4 linked regions of the Homo sapiens genome follow. The protein of the gene in region 2 interacts with the protein of the main gene of each other region in a biochemical or structural test. Each region holds a gene or a part of one and is shown on either strand. Other genes may lie near its edges.

Region 1 (7,467 bases), on a different chromosome or scaffold from region 2:
CTGTTCTAAGGATCTGTCAGGATTTCCTTTATACACTCCATTTTGAGTGGTATATAAATCAGATGTAAAAATTCATGTTGGACTGAAATTCAGCACAAAATGCCTCCTCCAGAGGCAAATGCTTTTTTCAAAATGTGGTTCGAATTATGTTGGTCATTTTTAAGTTACAGAAGTGCAGAAAATGTATTTGTGGTTTTGAGGGAGAGAGATTTTTTCCATTTTTATAACTCATTAGGAAACTTTACAGGCCTTCAGACCATTTTGTGGTTTAGTTCTTCTCAGGTTTTTCCCCAAAGCAATATTAAAACTTGAATGGTGTCCGCTGTGAATCCAATGATTACTGTTCTGAATACAAATGTATGTGTGGATACATATAGTTCTACATATCTTCAACTAGGAGAAGTTCCAAAAATATTATGACCAAGGTAGAAGATGAGGCCTATCAGTTGGCTAGTCTTTGCCTTGGTATCAGTCAAGTTTGGCATATCAAAGGAATCAAAGGAATCCCCTATCCAAACCACAGTTCAGCAGGTATTGCTTGAATTTTAAAACTGCATTAAATTGCAGAAAAATCCGCTGAGTTCAACACTGCCTCTTTTATGAGCTTTTAGACAATAATGCTGCGCCTTTTCTAAATTTTGGTTTCTCTAACATATAGAGCAAGTTGCAGTGTGTTTAACAGATATTCACTAATGCTTATCTCATTTCTAAAGTATTTAATATGTATATATTATGCATATAAATTAGTTTGCTAAATAATGTTGAACTTATTTTGTTAGTGTAGCTAATGTGTTAGAGTAATTTCATAAACATCTAAATTATTATTTTAGCCTATGTAGAGATTATTATACTCTCTTTCCTAACAGCATCAGTTAAAATCAAAGAAAGTTTGATTTAGACCAAGAAAGTTGGCCTAATTCACAAAGTTGATTAAGCCAATATTTCAGATGACTTTAAAGGAAAATGAAAATAAACATAATATATATGTTTGAATTGCTTCCATCTATACTGCATTTAGTTTATTAATACATTGGAACAATGCATTTAGTAGTTATTATTTATCGTTTAAAGCACAATTTTTAAAAAAATTTCCCAATATCGTATCTTATGCTTTGTATTAAATTCCCCTTAGAGAATTAAATCTGGGTGTCTTGATTCCAAAACAGTTCCCTTTCCTATTTCCTATATTTCCTATTTCCTACATTACACTATTTCTGGTACAGTTACCAAAATCCTTGGGTTTAGGGACAGTTAAGATGGACCACTCAGAGGATGATCAAACATTTGCCTGTGGCTGGAGCAATGTAGACTTTCCCTCTGGGATACTGAGGAGCAGAAGGGGTCTCACTTCTCCTGAATGTTTTCTCTACTTACCTAGTGTCACAGAAATTAGCCAGCTATGTACTATCGAGACAGCTGAATGCCAGTTTTTCTTATTTTTCACATTAACAAGAGAGTAAGGTTACTAATGAGGGGTCACATCCCAAATCTCTAATCTATATAGCTGAATATCCCTATTTATATTTGGGTCATTTTTTGTTCTGCTCCATTGACTTTTACTAAATTATACTAATTTGTGTTCCATAATGTTATTCTTGGTTATAATTAATGAAATTTTGTGTGTAACTCATATATCACTGATATACTTATGTCTTTCTGTTAATCATTAAGGTCATTTCTTTTATAATTTAAATTAACATGTATCACTTCAAACATCCCTGTATAACTCAAAACAGTTATGAAGAAGTTCTTTGCAGCTTTTGGGAGAAGTTTACAAATTTCTGAGAACTAGATACATATTGAAATATAGTTTTATGTTAATCAAAACTGTTTCAAAGGAAAGCATAGACATTTAAAAACGACTGAAAATAAAAGTACTTTAAATGTCAAAGTAAATAATTTTATATGTGAATAATCTAGATTTCATGGTTTGAGCAGGAATAATTTATAACTCATTAGGCAAGTAATATACACAGTGCACTTCTCTCCCAACCTATTGCATTACAGCCATATTTTTTCTCACATTTGTAGAAAGGGTTACACAGTGCTATTATTTGAATAGCTTTGACCTTGTTAAAGCCTGGCACCATTGTTTTTTACATAGCAAGCAGTATATTTTTAAATAGAGTCACTTTCTTACAACACATGAAATAAAGAATGACATAAAAACTTTAAGATTGTGAATAATAAAATATGTAAGATATATCCTCACCTTGATTTTACCTTTAAGCAGCCTTTTATTTGTCTGTTAGGAACTTCTTTCCATGGTTTTACAGGCTCCGGCTCTTGTTCTTTCTTTTGACAAATGAATGTATAATTTGTGCCATTATTATTTGACCAAAATGTACCAACAGAAGTTTCATAACGTATACAAAACTCAACTTTACTGCCATCTTTTTGATAAGGAGGAACCAATACAATCTTAAAGGAGAACTGGTCAGTTTCACCATCACATGAATTAGGAACATATTCTGCTAAAATGTCATAATGTGTCTGCCAGTCATCTAAAGACATTCTTACATATACTAACTTCTCAAAAGAAACATTCAAAACTCGAATAATACCCTTGATACTTGTAGACCCAAGAAGAGACTCAGTTGACTCCAGTATTGCTTTCTGTATTTGGAGTTGTTGCATAAGATCTTCTTTTGAAGAAGGCAAGTCAAACAGTGGGGCTAAAACATATTCTTCTGTGTGGAAAATGTCCGTCCCTAAGTCAAAAGTGGTTGAAGCACTCGGTAATTCCCAGCAATCAAATTCTTTAACAGACACAAGATTGAATCCAAAGGAATCAGCAAATGAAACTCTTCTAGTACCTGAAGATGGGGTATCCAGGTATATGTCTTCAGAAGAATCAGAACCTCGTCTACTTGGTTGAGGGGAGAAACCAGGTTGGAAAGTAACTTCTTCATCTTCACAAAGAGAGTCAGATAAATTAGGAACTTCTAAAAAATTATCTTTGCTAATCTGACTAGGTACTTCAGAAGGCTCCATTGGGCTCTCTGATATCAAATAAGAGAGAACTGTACGACTAGTAGAGGCTGACATTTGAGATACTGAGGCTTAAAATAGGTATAATGTTACAGTTGACATTGCAAAAAGAACTCAGCTCTATAAATAGGTCCAATGGCGTGTCAACTATGCTAGCCTGCAACCCTGCTAGCCTCCCCCTAAAGGCCTTGCATATGATAGCATCCATGCTACTCCCACCAGTATGTTTCAGATTTAACTGGCAGTTTTTAAAGCTGTATTTGTTTATGAGCTAAGTTCCAAACAGATATTTTTAAATCATGTTCTGCTGTATTGGAAATCCTGGAACTTTAGGATAAAAATATTATTTTAATTAGTTGATGTTAAAAATGAAAATGTGGATTTTTTTTAAATAAAATAAAAGTAGTATCACAATACTGAATATGTAGTTTGGACTAAATTAATCCATGGAGCAGGTAAGTGCAAACAGGGAAAGATAAGAACATTTATAGAACTGAAGAGATCCAGAGCCTACTAATAATGACAGCTATCATTTTCAGGGATTTATAAATGTATAGCTTTATTACAAAAGGGTTAAATAGAGGTGCTGAAAGTTCTGAGGAAGGAAACATGATTCAGATGGGGAAGGTATCATTTTAAATAAAGCATGAAGGGTAGGTGGAATTTAGACATGCAAGGTTGGAGCAAGGCAGATTGTCCAGGTAGAAGAAATAACCCAAGCAAAAGCCTAGAACAAAGAAGTAATCAAATTCATTATTTTAAACATTAGTACATTTATTTTAATTAAGCCATGGGAAAATACAGATAAGACATGTTATTGATTTACAAATATAAGTGGGCAAAGGTAAGCCTGATCCAGGACTAATACATCTACGTAGAATAAAATGTTCTTTTGCAAATGGCCATTTTATGCCCACAAAGCAGAAGTTGATACCATCACACCTTGAAATTCAATATGAGTTTTAAAGTATGAACAGCCTGCTTAAACTGTCACGTTTTTTTTATGTCATAAAACCCAAGTTGGGGGATGGTCATTTTGGTAAAAACCTATAAAAATTTAACTGCACACAATTTGACCGAGAAATGCCCCAGCTAGAAATTTGCTCTGTCAGTATGGGAAAGTATACAAAGATAAATAGAGATCTATGTTCATAACAGAATTGTGCGTTTAACAGTCTCTACAAACCTGTTAAATGTCCCTCTCGAAAGAGCATTGGATAAATAACCCATACAATAGAATGTTTTAGAAGGATAAAGTAGCACTTTATGTGCTAATATGGAAAGATAACCAAGATAAATGGCTAAGTGATAAAAAAGAAAATGTGTACAGATATGTACATAGAAAACTCCTGAAAGGATACAAAAGACAATGTTAGCAGTATTTACTTCTAACCACAGAATTTAAAGATGGCAGAGGAATGGGGGCTCTATTCATTTTACTTTATGGTCTGCTGTACTGTTTGAAATATTATACATGAGCATGGTTTTCTTTCAAAATATCTATTAATTAAACTGAAAAAATATACGAAGTGTGAAAGGTGATTAGTTTTTCTTTTTATAAAGAGCCCAATAGCATAATTTCTTTCAAATGAAAACCTCATTAATATGGTATAACTTATTAGGTAATTTGAATTGCATAAAGTAGTGGATGGAGAAATTATTTTCTAAAATTATAAGTGACTAGTGTCTAGAAGGATAAAGAAATGAAATTATTTGAGCTTTATCTCATCCACATAGCTAGAATGGGTGGTGACCACATGGATTGCTCAAGAATGGGTAATGGCTGCGGAAATGTCTGTGCCTTTCAGATTTGATGACTACAAGTAGCTATATTTCAAGGTACCTGAAATACATTGCTATGTAGTCAAGGAAATCAGCAACAAAATGCTTTATGGAAATTAGTAAAATAGTTCATATAGCCATGTAAATAATGGGATAATGAAAATTTAAGATATAATAATGTACTGAAATATTTTAACTATCCAGGAGTTAGTTAGCAAAGGAATGGAAATGAAGACCCCTGGGTCCATTTCCTGGCTCTGCTGCTTACTAGCTGGATGACCTTCCGAATGTTACTCAGATGTTCTAACCCACAGTTGCCTTAATTGTCAAAGTACAATGTTTAAAATTAAACAAGATTCTTGTTAAATGTCTAGCACAAAACCTATAGTAATAGCACCAGTCACTATTTCAATTCCGATATATGTTTGTAAAAGGCTGATTTCTAAGGTATATCAACAGATAGATGGATAGATATGTAATCTATCTAGCTACAGAGAATTCATATATATCATTAAGAAATGATTTGTAATTTGTTTCATTTTTGTCTTTTTCAAAGGCTATAGTGTGTAACACTTAGCTTTATAAGACATAATATAGCTCTACATTAGAAAATGGTCCTGTTATTTGATCTAAACTTTTCCCTTGTTAATGTGTCTCTTTACACAGAGCACTACCTTGATTTGTAGTAATCACTGCCTTTCTTTTGGAATTTATAACCTTCACATAATTGTAGACAGTTGACATGTTCCCCCTTAGTCACCACTTAGCTAAAGCAGAGTGATTTCATCTTTTTAATCTCTTCCCACATGTCAATCCTCCAGTGCTTTTTACCATTTTGTTACTCCTCTATGAACTCCTTCCAGCTTGCCTGTATTTTTCTGTTAATGAGCTGCCCCCAGATGAATGCAATATTATAGATCAAGTGTCTCTGGAGCATGAAAAGAAATACTAACAGCCTCAGCCTTGTGACTTGGTGTTTGCATTCAGTTAAAATTCACATTTCCTTGCTTTATTTCCATATCACAGATCAGACCAATGTCCCATTTTCTCATATCCACCACTACCTCAATTTCAACACAATTTATCACACTCTTCTTCAGCTGCTAAGGTATACTGTTTTTAGAAGAATTAAAGCTTTTTCTTTCCTTCTTTTTTTTTTTTTTTTTTTTTTTTACAAACTAAAGCTCAAGTCTCCATGCATTCCATAATTTTTGGTATTAATCAAATATTCTCAAAGGCACCATTAACATAAAAAACAGTATCAGTCAGGAACCCAGTAAATAGGAAATAGATGGCATGCTCAAATAAGATAATTTCAGGAGGATTTATTTACAAGGGTCTATTTATAAAGTGTAAAGGCAGAGAAGCCACAAGAACTAGTGTGACAAACTGGGGTCAATTGCATCAGAGCTTTTACCATCCTTCAAGGGATAAGGGAAGGGAACACTTATCAGAACTTGAAAGCAAAGCGTGCCATAAAGAGCTTACCAACTGGAGACCTGGTCAAAGGACACAGCCAGTTGAAGACGACTTTGCCAGGAGTGATCCGGGAGCATAATAAACTGAATTCATTCTTCTCCCTTTTTATGATGTCCTACCAGAGCTACCTATTGGCCAGAGGGCATGGGAACTATTATAGTTCATTCAGGTCAGTCTCCCGCAGCAGAAAACAGGGAGGAAAATGGTGGAAAGGGTGGCAAGTGGATTTGGAGGAGCAAACAGAAGATATGAGGTATGAAATATATGCAAATATGTATATAACATATATACATATATAACTTAAAATACATATGTGTGTTCCTCTTTATTTATACATACTGTATCTCAATGCCAACTGAGTTTCTATTACCTGATCTTCTACTGTCATGGGTTCAAGAAAAAAAGTTAAATATCTAAGGTCTGATCAGCTCTGATCCAGTGAGAATCAAAAATAAGAGAGATTGTGTTTATCCACAAATGGGTAGGAAAGAAATGATCTATTTTGAAATTAATTATGATTTTGCATTTGTTTCCCATGTTAGCATAGATTTTTGCAACCCAAAGAAACGTTTTGTCAAGAGACAGTCTAGAACTGTAGTCTTTAAAACCAGAGATAGATGTCAAAAATCACTGGGAGAGATGTTCAAATAAGATTTTCCAAGAGGATGATGGTTCACAAGTGATTCTGATATATAGACTTGGTTAAGATGCGTGATCTCCGGCTGGGCGCAATGGCTCATGCCTGTAATCCCAGCACTTTGGGAGGCCAAGGCGGGTGGATCACAAGGTCAAGAGATCGAGACCATCCTGGCCAACATGGTGAAACCCCGTCTGTACCAAAAATACAAAAATTAGCTGGGCATGGTGGTGTGCACCTGTAGTCCCAGCTACTCGGGAGGCTGAGGCAGGAGAATTGCTTGAATCCAGGAGGCGGATGTTGCAGTGAGCCGAGATTGAGCCATTGCCCTCCAGCCTGGAGACAAAGTGAAACTAGGTGTCAAAAAAAAAAAAAAATGCATGATCTCCTAGTCTGTCTGCCATAGTCAGGGACTTAAGTTCTAGTTATGAAAACAATTGTAGCTATTATCCCTCTACATATGTACTATGTGCTATTTTTAGTGTGTGTGGGGGCTATAAAATGCTTTTACAAAAAAAAAAACAAGAATTGGGTAGAACTTTAAGGTCATTTAGCAATCATCTAGGCTAGTCCCTTCA
Region 2 (7,039 bases):
GTTTTTCCACTTTAATTCTTCCCGTATATTGATGAAAAACTAATTTTCTTACACTATTTCCATTAAATTACTTCCCTGTACAAAAACCCAATACGGTTATTAAATCACTCAACAAACTCCGTTGCTCAATAGTCAAATCTCCATAATCTGATTCCATCATTTCCCAGCATGTACTTGACCTTCTAGTCAGGCCAGTTCTTACACATTCCCTAAACTAGACAACAAAGAGTGTCTCAAGTCCTTTTAACTTCTCCAAAGCCTATTTATCCTCTAAAACCCATGCCTCCATACACACATGTACCCAGTCTTTCCTCCTCCTGACTTCTCATAGTGTCTTAATAAGTTCTGACATATTAAATACCTTTTATTACTCAATTATCTGTTTCATAAATGTATCTTAGCAACAGGTTTTTAACTCTTCAAGATGGTCAGATCATACACTATCTACTAGCTAGGTGTTAGACATATACATTAATTTTTCAAATAAACTTTCAAAAAACTTCAAGCTTATTTCATAAGCCATACAGAGTAACCTACCAATCTGCCAAAGATTATTTTATTATTTTATTGTTAATACTAAAGCAAATATATTATATGAAGCCTAGAATTCTTGATATATGTGAATATGAAACTCAATTTTATTTGGATTCTGATGAAAGATTTCAATATAGGCAGGAAGATATCCTCTCATTTTTACTAATAAATAGCAGGGGTGTCTTTCTGTTAAAACTTGAGGCAAAGGAGACTTTCTCAAACAACTCTAGTTACACTCCTTATATGTGAAACTGTATTTAAAGAAGCATTACGTTTTCATTTATAAATAAATTTCTAATTTTTAAAAGAGGTTTAGCCATGTTTAAAACAGTTTTAATCACTTGAGTTTTCATACAAGCACTGCTTTGTTTTCCCACAGCCTCTTGATTATTATAGGTATTTTCCGAATAATAGAAGAAAAAAAAAATCTGTAAGGCAAATTTACTAGTCTACCTCCATGACAACAGAAGATCTTCTCATCCACAATGGCTGCTATAGGCAGACAGTTAAAACAATCAGTGAAGGTCTTCCACAATTTAATATTAAATCTTCGTTTGCCTGTAAAAAGAACAGATAGAATAAATTAAAAAATCTAAAACTGTTCTCATCAGTTATCTCAAAGCCGCAGGATTATGAATGATTTCAATTTTCTTCATTTCTTCATGTTTATCTATAAAGAAGAACTTTTTCTACAATGCAAAGATGTTATTTACGTACTTTCAAAAAGGCAACAACTACAATAAACATTCAATACCTTCAGTAAAGTTACCAAGACTTCAAAGATTGTGCTGGGGGTAGGGGTGGGATGGGAAGATGTTGGTCAAAGAATACAAAGTATCAGTTGGGTAGTAGGAATAAATACAGAAGATCGATTGTATAACAGTGACTACAGTTAACACTATATTGTATCTTTGTAAAATGCTAAGAGTAAATTTTAAGTGTTGTTTTCTCCCAAAATGCTAACTTTTTGAGGTAATGCATATGTTAAATCAGCGGGATTTAACCATTCTGCAATGTATATATACTTCAAAACATCATGTTGTACATCATAAATACATAGAATTTCTGACAAATAAAATAAACCTAATCAAATTTAACACTTAAAAAATCCCAAAGATTGTGCTAGGTGTTTTATGAAATACATCAAACAATTTTTGTCTTTTAAGATCAGTATAATATAGCAATTTTTAAACAGTCTAATAGGCTCTTAGTTCATTTTTTTCCGTTCAGTGTGTGGACTAGTTAAATACCTAGCCAAATAAGCAAGCAGAAGTGAAAAGGTGCCTCTGGAAACTGTCCATTTTAACACTAATGCATTGATTAACACAGTATAAACTTATTGCCAAGGAAGGAAAATTTCCAAGTGTTTAACTAGTATTCTTTTGTGTGAATTACAACTTGGCACTATAGCAAGTATAAATAGAGGCACAAAGGCTATAATTTTCCTGTAGCCTAGCATAAAAAGCTACGACAAAGACAACCTCAAGTGTATGTTCACCTTTTTAGAGTTACTCGATTTTCCTGAATTTGGTAATAAGGTACAACTACTAAGCTAGGGAAGGGATGAAAGACACAAGTACTAACTTCCTGTGCTTTTATGCCACAACCTGCCCCTTAATGAGTAAGTACATAACTCAAAGCACTGTTTACAAGTTGCTCTCCCATACATTATTTCATTTGATGTCATTTCTATCCCCAAAGACATTCTTGCCTATCTTTTATCCTTTAAAAATATACCTCCATTTCTGATGTAGCTTTAGGAAGAATGTTGTAGTTTGATGTACTCCAACCCACTTTCTCTCTGCTAGTCTGATTTAAATAATTCAAACCACACACTACATCTCAGAAATAAAAATACAATACAAAATCAAATACAGAATCATTTCTATTAGAATGTAAGCTCATGGCTGGGCGCCGTGGCTCACACCTGTAATCCCAGCACTCTGGGAGGCCGAGGCGGGTGGATCACCTGAGGTTGGGAGTTCAAGACCAGCCTGATCAACACAGAGAAACCCCATCTCTACTACTAAATATACAAAATTAGCCAGGGAACGTGGTACATGCCTGTAATCCCAGCTAATCGGGAGGCTGAGGCAGGAGAATCGCTTGAACCCGGGAGGCGGAGGTTGCAGTGAGCTGAGATCGTGCCATTGCACTCCAGCCTGGGCAAGAAGAGCGAGACTCCGTCTCAAAAAAAAAAAAAAAAAAAAAGAAAGAAAAGAAAAGAAAAAAGAAAAAAGAAAGGCTATTTTCATTAAGCATTGGAAGCCTGATACAGCCTTTTTTCACTACAAGGACATACAGTCCCAGCTAGGCTGATGACCTGCTATTTGGCTGGACAGGGAAGGCCAATCAATGCTGGAGAAACACTTGGGAAAAAAAATGTAAGCTCCATGAGAACAGAGATCATCTGTATTGTGTATTGCTTCACGCACTGTGTTCACAATAGTGCCTGCACATATAACATACCCTCAAACTTTGTCAAATCATTATATAAATCAAGGAGATATGAGTTTGAATAGGTCTCTAACATAATTAAGGATTGAAAAAAAGCAAAAGTAGATTCTAATAGGGAAGACAGCAATAAAAAATTCAATTTGAAGATTATAATTGATTCTAAGTAGTAATTAACCAAATAAATACTTACTCCCGTATTCTAATAAAACCAAAAGACCATATTTGAACCTAGTAGGGTATTTTAATAATAACACTTGGAAACATACAATACCAAATCGTTGATTTCCTACTAATGAAAAAGAGAGTAAAATAAGGATACCCCAGAGTATTCAGTATCTTTATCTTTCAAGGTTTACAGACATAGATTTAAATTCTAATAATATTAAACTTTGACTTTTAAATAGTTTCACAGAACTTCTCAATAATTCTTGTGACACAGGACTAATAAAAGCTGTCATACCACAAGAATGCCGAGAGTTAAAACCTTAATGGACACTAGAAAACCAAGGGCCACTGCCTACAGTGACTTCTGTTTCACCTGGATAGTTTACTAGATAAACTAATTTTAAAAGAGCCTCTTCAGCCAAGTAAGCTGCAGTCAATCTGAAATATGACCAAGGAGATCTCAAGGAACCAATTTAATTAGTAACATGTTTCCCAGTTTCAGGTTCCTCTTCCTGGCCTATGCCTGACAGATCTTATTTTGAAAAAACTCTGAATCAAAGCAACTCTTCTGAACCAGAAAATTATTAGGCAATGTTTCCATGAATTACTTTTCTAAGTCTTTATTTTCACTTACATTCATCATAGAATCCATAAATGCGATTGATGCTAGCACACTCATGGTTTCCTCTTAAGAGAAAGAAGTTCTCTGGATATTTGATTTTATAAGCCAATAGCAAACAAATGGTTTCCAAAGACTGCTTTCCTCTGTCCACATAATCTCCTAAGAAAAGATAGTTGGCTTCTGGTGGGAAACCTCCATATTCAAATAATCTCAGTAAATCTGTATATTGTCCATGAATATCTCCTAAAAAGAGAAAGAGTCAGTTTTAGAAAAATTGGTTACTGTTATAAGCAGCTTCTATGAAATGATTCCCAATGTTCACATCCTGTGTAATCCTCCCCTACCCTTGAGTATGGGCTATATTTGGTGACTTACTTCTAATAAGCGAAAGTGAGATGGGCTGTCACTTCCAAGATTAAGTTACAAAAGACTGTGACTTTCATCTTGCTTGCACTCTCTCACCTTCTTCCATGCTCGCTGATGAAACCAGCTGTCTAATGAAGCATCCCACGTAGCAAAGAACTGAGGGAGGCCTCTGACCAACAGCTCATTTGGAACTGAGGCTCTTAGTCCATCAGTCTATAAGGAACTGAATCCTTTCACAGTTCAACCTTCAGATGACTGCAGCCCGAGATCACGCCTTAATTGGAGCCTTGTGAGAGACCCAGAGCCAGAGGACCCACTAAGCTGTTCCTGAATTCCTGACCCACAGAAATTGTGAGATGGTAAATTAATGTTGCTGTAAGCCACAAAGTTTTGGAATGATTTATTATACAACAATAGGTAACTAAAACAATTTTATTATCTGGTAGTTTAACTTACGTCACTTTTTAACACCAAATATGGAGACAAATAGTAAACCTTTAGAAATATGTAGTACAAATAACTTCCATTACCTTCAAGTTATTTCTATATTACATTTTAAAGAACACCTTCAAAGAATACTTTAATTCTAATAATTTTAAGATCACCTCTAAGTAACTACATTTGCTTAAGTTTATACAGGGGATTGATTAGTTCCCCCAAATTCTGAACTACTACCTCTTACTTGAAGGTGTGATATTCTAAGTTAACTGATCCATTCAACAAACATTTATTGGCCAGCTGCGGTGGCTCATGCCTATAATCCCAGCATTTTGGGAGGCCAAGACAGGTGGATCACCTGAGGTCAGGAATTCAGAACCAGCCTGGCCAACATGGAGAAACCCTGTCTCTACTAAAAATACAAAAAGTCAGCTAGACGTGGTGGCTCACACCTGTAATCCCAGCTACTCAGGAGTCTGAGGCAGGAGAACCACTTGAGCCCGGGAGGTGGAGGTTGCAGTGAGCCAAGATTGTGCCATTGTACTCCAGCCTGGGCAACAAGAGTGAAACTCTGTCTCAAAGAAAAACCAACCAAACAAACAAAAAACAAACATTTACTTAGCGAGTATCTCTTATTTGCTGGGCACTGTACAAAGGACTGTAAAAAAGTCACTGTAAAACTTAAAAGAATACAAGGTATAAAGTAGTATAATCTTCAAAACAAATTTAAATAACATCAAAGTTAGAAGACCACAGATATCGCCATATTGACCCTCTAAATTATACACCTATTTTTTTCTAACCAGTGTACTATGATGCCCTTTTCGTGACATCCTTGACAACACTAAACATCAATCTTTGGTATTTTTTTATAATCTGACTAGAGTTGGAGACTTGCTTTAAATTGCACATCACTGATTACTAAAAAAAGAAGCTGACGTCCTTATGTTTACTGGCCATTTGAATTTCTTCTAAGACCTTCCTCTTCCTATGTTATTTTTATACTGTATCGCCTTTCTCTTATTTATAAGAACTCTTTATATATTATAAATAGAACTCCTTTTATCTGTTGATATATAGCAAGTATTTTCATCTTGTCTGTAACTTGTCATTTTTATAAGTTTCAATTTTTATACACTTTTATTTAGTAAAGCCTACTGATCTGTTTTATACAAAAATTTCAAAAAATGTTTTCTCTAGATCTTAAACATGGGAGGAAAAACATGATTCAAAAGAGTTGTTTCCAACTTTACCCATTTACATACCACAAATTTTCAGCGGTGCTTCCAATTCCAAAAGAATAGGCTGGCTGAGAAAGATCTCCCGAGACTTGATACATAAGCCTCGAACTTCTGCTTCAGTCATCTGCACAATCTTTCCTGGACGACATCCTCGTACTGACAAACGATAAATAAAACAGTCAGTTTTCTAAAATTTACTCATAATAATCTTTCAAAAAGAGTCATGCCCATACTTTAAAAATCAGAAAAGTCACACAGGCAGCAAATTACCCTATTTGGTCCCATGGTTTAAAATAATGTTATTCTATGATCTCTGACTTCTATTTTCATTGTTACTGGTTCCTGATGATGCTCCTCAAGTCTGCTGTTGATGAAATGCAGTCCTGTTTTTTGCTGTCCTGTGACCAACCTGGGGCCTAGTAGCCAAAGAGACTTAAAAGATTTCAGGGCCGGGCACGGTGGCTCATGCCTGTAATCCCAGCACCTTGGGAGGTTGAGGTGGGTGGATCACCTGAGGTCGGGAGTTCAAAACCAGCTTGATCAACATGGAGAAACCCCATCTCTCCAAAAATACAAAATTAGCCAGGTGTGGTGGCGCATGCCTGTAATCCCAGCTAATTGGGAGGCTGAGTTAGGAGAATCGCTTGAACCCGGGGGCAGAGGTTGCAGTGAGCTGAGATCGCCCCATTGCACTCCAGCCTGGGCAACAAGAGCGAGACTCCGTCTCAAATAAAAAAAAAACAAACAAACAGAAAAAAAACAACAACAAAAAAAACACACACAAAAAAACATTTCAGAGCCCGCACCCTTTAAGGTCTGGCCTGCTTATCTCGCATCTAGTAGGATGTCAAAACAGCCTCATTAAGAACAATGTGCTATGAAGAAAGGGAGATTAAATAGTAATTGTCAGTAGGTGATTTAGCTTCACACACTTTCTTGGAATGTTACCAGCAGTCCCCAAAATTTTAGCAACTCCTATCTCTACTTTCTGATCAAAAGAAATACAAAAAAGATATCAGCTATGTATTAAAAATTAACTTATCGTTACATTCCCAATAGATCATTATATTAAAACCTCTAAAGGCTATTTAGATGGAGTGAGGCATCTTTGCATTACTGAGCCATAAGATAATATGGTTTCCAGTAACTTGTGGGATGAAGGGGAACAGAATGTTGCATGGAGAGACAGAAGAGTTCCTTATTTGCCCCACTGAAC
Region 3 (7,039 bases), on a different chromosome or scaffold from region 2:
AACACTGAGGATATTTTAAAAAAATGTTCTGGAGCTGAAACTCCAACAGAAAAGCTCTAGAAGTGTTCCATGCAAGAATATAAATATTCAAATAAGTTTATAACCATCTAAAACAATTTTGAAGGCTAATAAAATATATATAATTTGGGATGTTTATTACAAGTAAAGGTTGAGTGCATACGTGTACGTGTGTGTGTGTGTGTGTGTAACAGTCCATGAAAATATACTTTCCCACATGGTTATTAATCTTTAAGAGGGTGCCAAGTGACATCTCACAAAATGTATTCTCCTCTGCACTATGCAGTATTCAAGAAAATGACATGAGCTTTGTACAATCTTATGATTTTATTGTTAGAGGTCATGTTAAACTAAGAAAATAGTAATTTCAGCTCAAATGTGAGTTAAATCATCAAGTTAAAGTAAAGCTTTTTATTAAGTGAAGCTCTCTCTGCAGAATATCTCACTTAATATACATAACATTTAAATAGACTACTAAAAAAGTGACAGCTGAGGAATGCTTTCACTTCTTTCCATGGTTTCTACTGAATGTCATTTCAGAAATGCCTATACAACACATGACAATGTGGAATGTCTCCTCCCATGAAAGAGCATTTGAGTTGAGCAGCAAGCACACTTAGGGCAGTAACACAGAACTCAAGCGTGTCTTTTTATGGTTAGCCAGCATAACAATGCAAAGATAAACAACCAAAACACTAATAAGGTCAGAAAATACTGACATAGAGGGAGCCATAGTAAAAATGTTATTTGGAAAAAAAAAGTATCAGTAAAATAACAGAAAATATGCATTATTTCTAATATTACCATGCTAGAGATTTCTTTTCTTTTTCTTTCTTTTCTTTTCTCTTTATTGGTAGAGACACCGTCTCCCTATATTGCCCAGGCTGGTCTTGAACTTCTGGGATCAAGTCTCTTGCCTTGGCTTCTCAAAGTGCTGGGATTACAGGTGTGAGCCACTGCATCCAGCCTAGAGATTACTTTTCTAAATGAACACTCAAGGATTTGTTTAAAGAATTTTTAAACTAAGTTACATAAACTGAAGCGTCTATTGATAATCAGTAATAGATCTCATTTCAAAAATAAATCTAACATCCCAATAATTTTTTTCTTTAAGACAGAATCTCGCTCTGTCGCCCAGGCTGGAGTGAAGAGGCATGATCTCAGTTCACTCCAACCTCTGCCTCTTGGGTTCAGGCGATTCTCGTGCCTCAGCCTCCTGAGTAGCTGGGATTACAGGCATGCGCCACCATGCCTGGCTAATTTTTATTTTGTATTTTTAGTAGAGATGGGGTTTTGCCATGTTGGCCAGGTTGATCTCAAATTCCTGAGCTCAGGTGATCCGCCTGCCTAGGCCTCCCAAAGTGCTAGGACTACAGGCGTGAGCCACCATACCCAGCCACCTAATAAATGTTTTGATTGTAATAATGGCTACCTTTACATTGTAAGTATTATAAAAGTAAGTGGTTGATATAAGCTTTTTTATTAGGACATTTTAAAAGTTTGTCAGTGTGTTACACTTACCCAATTATTTAATATTCTATGAATTCTGCTCTTCAAAATATTAGTTTACATTGTGTCCAATTTTTTTTAATCATTAAATATTTATTGTGTACCTACTAAAACAAAATGCCGATACAAAAGGAGATTTAAAGAAAAAAAGAATCAAAGTCCCTACCTTAAGGGTATATAAGGGACTTCTTCCCCCCCACCCCCAGTATCCATGGTATGAAGTTTCCTACAATTTGTCTCTAAAAAGAATCAAATATGTACATGTACGTATGTATAAAAAATTTACTGTAAATGATTAAAAAAAACTAAAACAGGCTAAGTGCAGTGGCTCACGCCTGTAATCCCAGCACTTTGGGAGGCTGAGGTGGGAGGATCACTTGGGCCCAGAAGTTTGAGACTAGCTTGGGCAACACGGGGAGACTCTGTCAAAGAAAAAAAAAAATTAGCTGGAAGTGGTGGCACATGCCTGTATTCCCAGCTGATCGGGAGGCTGAGGTGGGAGGATCACTTGAGCCCAGGAAGGCTACAGTGAACTATGTTCATGCCACTGCACTCCAGCCATGGTGACAGAGTCTGTCACCCTGTCTCAAAACACACATACACACACCACACCCACACACACACCCAACAACTGAAACGATATAAATTGCTATTAGGGTAAAGAAAAATAAAGGTAGTTAAAAATTAAATTCTATGTCCTGAAAAAAGGAGTGTTTCTTGTTGCTGCTGATATATTCTGCACATAATGGTAAGTCAAAAATAATCTTGGCACTTCCTAAAATTTAGGACAATTTCGAATTCTGAGATTAATTTAGATACAGTACTACTGCACTTCAATTACCATAGAAAGGTCTTAAAAGTATGGGCTAGCTAAAACAAATGTGGATGAAGAAAAAAATTATATGTGTGTTTCACTTGATTTTCAGCTAATTTACAGAGAAACCTCCAATTACTAAACACCACCATAATGATGAAAAGATTTAAGAATATTTTCTTCTTCAGACTTCAAAGAAGATACCTGGCATAGGGTAAAGTTTGAGTTTCGGCATCAAACAGACCTGCATAAGAATTCCAGCTCTGCCATTTATTTTCTTGTTAACTTTGAGCAAGTGAAAAAGCATGTTGTGAAAATTAAACTATTGTTTGGAAAAGCACTGCTCCTCAATAAAACACTGATTAAGTCATGGCTACTACATATCTGACTCCAACTGAGAATAAACTTATAATTGTTGGAGTTCTTCAACCTTTCAAAGAGGTATACCAAAATGCCAATACCTCATCATCTTCTCAACCTTATTGTGGAGCCCCACAAACTTTCAAAAGAAGGGTGGAGTAAAAGATGGCAATTTTTTGCAGGCAGAGGCAATGAAAATAGCAACTTCATATAGTGTCAAGAAGTAACATGTTATGGTAGTAACAAAACAACGTTTTATGCCTCCCCCTATTAAAAGGTTTTTAAATAGTTTTCTTTTAAAAATCATCTAATAAGATTTTTAAAACACTTTTCTTATGTGAACTGTAATTTTTAAATGTGGTAATAACAAATGGATGATGAAAAACACTTCCTCTATTCCATCCAGTGTTTCTACCTGGCTATAGAAAATGCTCAGTCACAGCTTGCAATCATACTGTAGCTGAGGCACATGAAAGATGGTCTTGGTTATGACACCTCAAAGTCAGACCACAAAAGTGTTGCCAGGAAGCACAGAGGCAGCAACTACAGAAAAAGCATTAGAACAGCAGCAGTGTGGGCACTGGTGCCCTACCAGCACACCCCATATATGGCTAGGGTTGCCCACTTATTTGTAGGAAGTGAGGGGCCAGTTTGGGGTTGGGAGGGTTTTATTTGTTTGTTTAGGTAGGTTTTTAAAAATGGATTTAGGATGATTTCAATAAAAACTTTTGAAAGGCATGAGCATAAAGTGTTACAGCTTTTCTAAAAAGAAAACTATGCAGAGAAATATTTTACACTGCACATTCTTTTAGACACAAATTTTAATGCTCTTTAAAAGTTATCCAGTAGGTTCTTCCAAGATCTTAACATTCTCCATCAAAAAAAGGGTAAACAGTTACAAACTATAAACTCTTAATTCAGATTTTACATAGTAATCAAACTATTTGCTAACAAGCAACTCAAAATTAATTGCTTCCAGTCTCTTTTACACTTCACATCTTAAGAAGACTACACAAAAGTATTCCCTTTACTGACGAGAGGATCACATATTTTACAAAGATGCTTAAAATGGCTCCCTTAGAAGTAGATCAAATTTGTATTTTAAAAGCAAAAGGATTTCATATTAAACCTATCTGTAAGTCTGTCTGTTTTGGAAAGTAAAAGAAAAACTATTTTAAAATTCTAATAGCATAGAACATGGAACTAATTCTACTTTGTATTCCTCTAGAAGTGGTACCCAACCTTGGCATCAGGAACTAGTTTTGTGAATGACAATTTTTCCACAGATGTGGGTTGGGGAGTGGGGCCGGATGAAACTGTTCTACCTCACATCATCATCAGGAATTAGATGCTCATAAAGAGCACACAACCTAGATACCTCAGAAGCGCAGTTCACAATAGGGTCCGCACTCCTATGGGAATCTAATGCCGCTGCTGATCTGACAAGAGGTGGATTTCAGGCAGTAATGCTAGCTTGCCAGTGTGTCGCTCACCTCCTGCTGTGTGGCCTTGTTCCTCACAGGTCGTGGATCGACCTGTCCACGGCCCAGCGTTTGTGAACCCCCGCTCTAGAGGATCTAGCTCAGACTCTTACAAAGTGAGTAATTAATTAGTGACTCAACTGGATATAATATTTTTCTACCACTTAACCAATATCTAGACTGCTTTAAAATTTAATAGAAAGGAGGTCGATATTAAGAATTTTTTAGGCCGGCCACAGTGGCTCACACCTGTAATCCTAGCACTTTGGGAGGCCAAGACGGGCGGATCACTTGAGGTCAGGAGTTCGAAATGAGCCTGGCCAACATGGTGAAACCCCATCTCTACCAAAAATACAAAAAAAATTAGCCAGGCATGGTGCCACGCACCCGTAATCCCAGCTACTTGGGAGGCTGTGGCAGGAGAATCACTTGAACCTGGGCGGCGGAGTTTGCAGTAAGCCAAGATTACACCACTGCACTCCAGCCTGGGTGACAGAATGAGACTCCATCTCAAAAAAAAAAAAAGATTTTTTTAAAATCTCAAGATATTAAAATATATTGAAATCTACAACAAAGTTTTTAATTTGTTTCATAATCACACAAATTCCATTATGTGCAAGAACAATACGCTAAGTATCTGATGCGAAGGTTTCAAAAATATATCTCACAACATAAAAATAACTCTAAAACTTCCTATTGATGAGGTAAAAAGATAAAAATTCAATAAACCTTTAGTGAGCATCTACTATGTGCTAGGCTCTGGAAATACAAAAATTGTGGAAGATTAGGTCCTCAGAGGCTACAAGGGAAGACAAACACAAACACTATTCAGTAAAAAGTGTTTTTATTGCAGGAGAGGCAGAATATAAGGTACAGTGAACACCCCAGAAAAGAGAATGTGAATCTTGAACAATGACTAGAATTTTAATTGGCAAACGAGGGAGAGAGGATAAAAGGCATGGCTAAAGGCATGGAAATAAAAAATGTAAAGATCTAGTTGAAACGTAAGCAAGTTAACCAATTTCTATAAAGGATACAACACAATGGAGATGTATCAACCATAAGCTAAATGATAAAATGTACTATATCCAAATTTAGAGAGAGGAATAACACCATCAAAATGATACTGTTCAAAGATTAATATGACAGCAATATGCATGCTAGATTAAATAAGGGAGAGAATAGAGGCAGGAAAAACAATTAAGCTATTACTATACTCTAGGGATAAAAATAAGGCTAGGTGCGGTGGCTCACGCCTGTAATCCCAGCACTTTGGGAGGCCGAGGCAGGTGGATCACCTGAGGTCAGGAGTTCGAGACCAGTCTGATCAACATAGAGAAACCGCATCTCTACTAAAAATACAAAATTAGCTGGGCATGGTGGCACACGTCTGTAATCCCAGCTACTTGGGAAGCTGAGCCAGGAGAATCGCTCGAATCCGGGAGGTGGAGGTTTCAGTGAGCCAAGATAGCGCCATTGCACTCCAGCCTGGGCAACAAGAGCAAAACTCCATCTCAAAAAAATAAAATAAAATAAAATAATAAAGGTATGAACTAGGTTGCCAGTAAAAAGTGGCAAAGAAAAGAACTGATGCCAAGGTAATTGTAAAGAAAAGACTGAGCTAGAAGACAGACTGGATTATGCATAGACAAGGGGAATGAGTAAACAATAACTAAAATGTTTAACTTGATTCTAAAGATTAATACATCATTAACAGAAACAGGAACATCAATGAGAAGAGTAGACTTGATGAAGAAAGATAGACCTGTTTTAGGTTGAATTTAAAGAAATTCCTGACGATGTAAAATTGTCTTACCACCAAATTAATAATACTTTTAAAATAATTAGTTAAAAAGGATGCTGGTAAAGTCTAAAGATAAGTATCTCTAATGTTAACGGATAAACGTAAAATTATAATACTGAATTGCAACTATGAAAATCTATATTTGAACAATAAGAAATCCTTTGAAGAAATCACAAAGGTTAACGTGAATACAGTAGTTGCCATTCTATGGCAAAGGGGGTGAACTTGTATTTACTATATTACTACTTAAAAGACATTATTAAATATAAAATTACAATACATTTAATATTTCATTTCAAATCAATACATAACCCCAAAAAATGGAAATGAGGCTTGGAGCTTTGCAGAAATGAGGGAACTGTAAACTGACTTGGAAGTCACTGGCACAGAGGAAAAAGAAAAGATTTTAAGGCTAAAATCAACAGGCTAAACTCAAAACTGCTGGAGAAAAATCTCAGCCCTGTATTTTATGCACACCAGTATCAGTAAGAATCAGCAATAAGGCATTCTATATATAACTTTATTAATCTCCTTAAATCTTTACAAAATATGCTAAAATAGAGATATAATCACATACTGTAAAACTCTACCAGGTAGCTATAAAATCAGAAGCTGATTATTGCCCCATTGGTAATAATGAAATTCTACTCTAGACCTCGGTTCTAGAAAAACCAGAAATTTGTATCTATGGTTAACTTTGTGCTGTTTTGTAGCTTTGGGGGTCAGGTCCTGGGTAGAGTGGGTGGGGGAGAAAGGCTACTCTGGAGACTAAGATAGGAAATTTGACAAGAAACGCTGCTTTTTCTTCTATACAGAGGACACATTTCTATACAAAAAGAACAGCTGAAGACTGGATATCTTTTATAACTTCTAATGAGGTAGCACATTCAACAAATTAATAAACCTTTAAATATAAGCTCTTTAAAGTAAAAGCAAAATATTCGATTTTCAAAAGCATATTTGTGGGTTGTGATGTTCCTAAAACTTTTCTCTTGACAATGAAATTTAGAACACTTGATCAAAACCAGAAAGTAAATGAATATTCAAAAAACA
Region 4 (3,616 bases), on a different chromosome or scaffold from region 2:
ACAAAATTAGCTGGGCGTAGTGGCGCATGCCTGTAATCCCAGCTACTCGGAGGCTAAGGCAGAGGAATTGCCTGAACCCAGGAGACAGAGTTTGCGGTGAGCCAAAATCGTGCCATTGCACTCCAGCCTAGGCAACAAGAGCGAAACTCATCTCAAAAAAAAAAAAAGCTCAGCCTCAAAAGAAATCCAAATTAAATCCAAGTAAAATGTGTGTTCACCCATGCAATGGGATATTTCACCATGGTTTCGACAGTATTTTTTCTAATTTATGTTGTCCCCAAACTATGCTTTTTGTTTAAATGTCTAGAAGTCATACTTAATATGTAGATAATTATGGTTGTCACATAAAAAAAGGCATTGTCCGTTTAACATCATATTATCTTGTATTTTTTAGAGCTTTCTTTTAATTCATCCCGCAAACAATGAGTGCCAGGTAAATGCAGGGCACTGTGCCAGGTGCTGGGAGGACGTGTTGAATGAACAGCCATCACACAACTATGTATTTCTTAGTGCTTTTGATTTTAATTCTTTTGGCATATCTAAATGTCAGAAAGTGAATATATACATACAGAATTCAAAACACCTTCCTAAAATGGTTATTATTGGCCAGTCATTTACATCTTTATTTTGAAAGTCTGAATTGTCAAATAGTTCTAAAGTGCATTCTTGCAGCTAATAAATAGCAGCATTTGTTTATAAAACCTTAAGAAATTCAGACCAGGGCTGGAGAAGTCACAATAAAAAATCAGACATGATCTAGATATAGTCTTCCTTAATCATCTAAGACAAACACTTGTGTGAATTAGTTTATAAGTATACATGAAATATATTTTAAAAAAACATTATAAAAAATTCATACAGTGATGAAAAAAGGAGTCTTCCTCTGCTATTAATATTAAATATGGCAAAACATATACTATACAAGGTTTGTTGAATACTAGTTGTCTTTGGAACCATAGGGAAAGCTTTGCTCTGGGTCAGTGTATGATGTAGCTGAGGTCCGTGATTTTCAACAAAGCTGGAGTTCTACAAGATGACCTGGAAGACTGCTTCTGGCATGGCTTTCGAGAAATCATCCACACAAATGAAAATGTTCTTTCAGTACTGGGACTGTCAGTTCATGGCTTTTTGCGCCTAAAACATAACAACCAGCACTTAGAGTTGAACTTTGCAATTAGTAACACATTCATAGCAAATCAATCTTTAGGAGGCCTTTGAGAACTGCTGTTTTATGATGAGATAATTCAAGTCCCTCTGAGAAAGCAAACAACTTTTATAAAATATGCTTATCTTAGTATTAAATTTAGAAAGGATTTCCCATCTTTATCCTGCTGCAACAATTTTCTAAATTGCTCAGTAAGGTATGTAAATGTTTAAAATGTTATATACATATAACATTTTATATACATATATGTATATAACATGTGATATACATATATGTATGTATTTGTAAAGAAGGGATTTTATTAAAATATGGAAAAAGACTGGGTCAGACTCCTGAGTATAAGTTTAACAGAAGAAGAAAAGGTATGATTCCTTCCCTACTATAAATTCTTTCATTCAGTGTTATTTATTTTAGTGAACACCTATTGCTACACCAAGACCAAGAAGCAAGTCAGGAAACAATGATTTACACAAAGCTGTCTAGTCTCCAACTTAAGCCTTTAGCCTTCCCTCCTTAGAGGTACTCTCAGTTCAGCCTCAGAAAGCTTTATGAGCGTTGGCAGAATATGAACATGAGCCACCAATCTTCCACCACCGCCTGCCTTGCAGCTCTGATTGCTCTTATCCAGCCTTCTGAGGCTCTCAGCATTCCAGCTGCCTACTGCAGTCTGCCCATGGAGGCCCAGATAGTCCAAGGGGAAAACCAAAACCATATATTTCTTCTGAAGAATAAGTGGATGGCTGGTAGAAGGAGTGATAATGTAAAGACCAGAGGAGGAAAAAAGCACACAGCAAGACCCCAATTACAGTCAGTACTCACTTGGGTTGTGCGTGATGCTGATATCCAGGTCCCAGCTGGGATCCTGCTCTCATCTCCACAGCCACAGAACACTGAGAGGAAAATGACAAGAGGAAAAAGATCAGCTCCTCTCAATAGTCTATAAAACACAGTTATTTAGCAGGCTCCACACCTAGGTGAAATGCAATATTGCTTTCTAGTTCAGCAAAGACTCTTACGTTAAAACACCAGTCACTCGTAATTTATTTCTGGCACAGGCCACAAATGTTGTGAGCCAGAAAGGTCTTTAGGTCATCCAGGTAACTTATCTCATTTTAGATAAGTTTGCAAAGAGAGTTGGTGGCTAAGGCCATAGCTTAGCCTCCTGACCCCTACCTTCCCATGTTCTTTCCAAGAGATTCTCCTCAGGAATAACACTTGCAAGGGAGTTCCTGATGAAGTGGATTCTTGTTATTCTAGGAATAGGCCTACATGGTGCACTGGCAATGTGAGATTATACCTCAGCATTTTCAAAGAGCATAAAAATCTAGAGCTGTGGGGTTTAAAACATGACAAACCTAATTTTAGTAGGCAGACAAATATTTAATTTTTCCCCTACCCTTGTTTCTACATCGGTCCATTCAGACTCTGCACCATCTGGTTGGGCAGGTGCTACTGTGGAAGATCTTCGTTTTCGACTACTGAAAAAGGGGAAACATGATGCAACAATTATTTTTCCATCTAAGAAGAGGAAAAATATTAGAAGTAGGGGAATACTATCTACATCCCTTTGGAGAATTAATGATACATTTCACAGGCTATTCTGTTCCTCCAAAATGAGCAGCTAAGAAAATGACCAACTTTTATACAGAGATTTTTGATGGTTACTTACCCATTTGGTGATTCTTGCTTTAAAGTCTCAATATCAGTAAACTGAACAGATTGTCCACCACCCCTTGTTTTATAAATATCACCCTAAAGCCAAAAGAAAAGGTCACTGTTACACATTGATACACCCAAACGAAAAACACACATATATATTTCAAACTGTTCTCATGATTCTATTTTATAGAAATTCCCATCCACAAAATCAGATGGTACTTGGTACTTGCTGAGTACGTACTATCAAAATAATTTAGAAATTTGAGTACATATCTCTCACAAATAAAAGAAGTCCAATTCAATGTAATCAGTAACATTCATAATTGCAGAAAAAAATATTCCTTTTGCTCCATCTGTAATTTAAAAACTAAACTGCACTAAGGATCAAGAAATTTGCTGGAAGTTTCTACACGCTCTAAGGCATGGTACTTTCTTCTCTGAGTGCCCCCTGTTGCCCATATTCAAATGACAGTATAGTCTTATTTGTAGCTAATTATAATAAGAACAAAAACTCTAAATTGAAATTGAAATAAAAAGCTTTTTTTTTTTTTGGTCTTATCTTTTACTTTCCTGATTATTCACTGACCCTATGATCAAAGGGGAATTCTTCTATAGTCAGGCAAGTCTCTTTCTGGAAAACGGCTTTAGGCAGCTCAATACTGAGTAATTTTGACGGGTCAAATTTTAACATAGGTTTCGTTTTGTTTTGTTTTTGTTTTTTTATCTTGAACTGATGGAGAGCAATAGGAATTCTTTGCTTAGATTACTTTAAGTAGTGGTTAAAACTAAATA

Evidence for each region.
Region 1: the proteins of PPP1CB (region 2) and PPP1R3A form a complex in vitro, tested with the Homo sapiens proteins (one study listed by BioGRID).
Region 3: the proteins of PPP1CB (region 2) and PPP1R12A form a complex in vitro, tested with the Homo sapiens proteins (one study listed by BioGRID).
Region 4: the proteins of PPP1CB (region 2) and KIF23 form a complex in vitro, tested with the Homo sapiens proteins (one study listed by BioGRID).

What each region holds. Positions count from the first base shown.
Region 1 is NC_000007.14:113,916,003-113,923,469, forward strand, and holds the start of PPP1R3A (protein phosphatase 1 regulatory subunit 3A), read right to left. Parts: upstream 3,008-7,467; 5' UTR 2,995-3,007; coding exon 2,213-2,994; intron 1-2,212. UniProt on the Homo sapiens protein: Seems to act as a glycogen-targeting subunit for PP1. PP1 is essential for cell division, and participates in the regulation of glycogen metabolism, muscle contractility and protein synthesis.
Region 2 is NC_000002.12:28,775,791-28,782,829, reverse strand, and holds part of PPP1CB (serine/threonine-protein phosphatase PP1-beta catalytic subunit), read right to left. Parts: intron 5,980-7,039; coding exon 5,848-5,979; intron 4,022-5,847; coding exon 3,791-4,021; intron 1,093-3,790; coding exon 988-1,092; intron 1-987. UniProt on the Homo sapiens protein: Protein phosphatase that associates with over 200 regulatory proteins to form highly specific holoenzymes which dephosphorylate hundreds of biological targets.
Region 3 is NC_000012.12:79,925,075-79,932,113, forward strand, and holds part of PPP1R12A (protein phosphatase 1 regulatory subunit 12A), read right to left. Parts: intron 1-7,039. UniProt on the Homo sapiens protein: Key regulator of protein phosphatase 1C (PPP1C). Mediates binding to myosin. As part of the PPP1C complex, involved in dephosphorylation of PLK1. Capable of inhibiting HIF1AN-dependent suppression of HIF1A activity.
Region 4 is NC_000015.10:69,445,310-69,448,925, reverse strand, and holds the end of KIF23 (kinesin-like protein KIF23), read right to left. Parts: intron 2,918-3,616; coding exon 2,835-2,917; intron 2,644-2,834; coding exon 2,562-2,643; intron 2,056-2,561; coding exon 1,985-2,055; intron 1,135-1,984; coding exon 1,119-1,134; 3' UTR 501-1,118; downstream 1-500.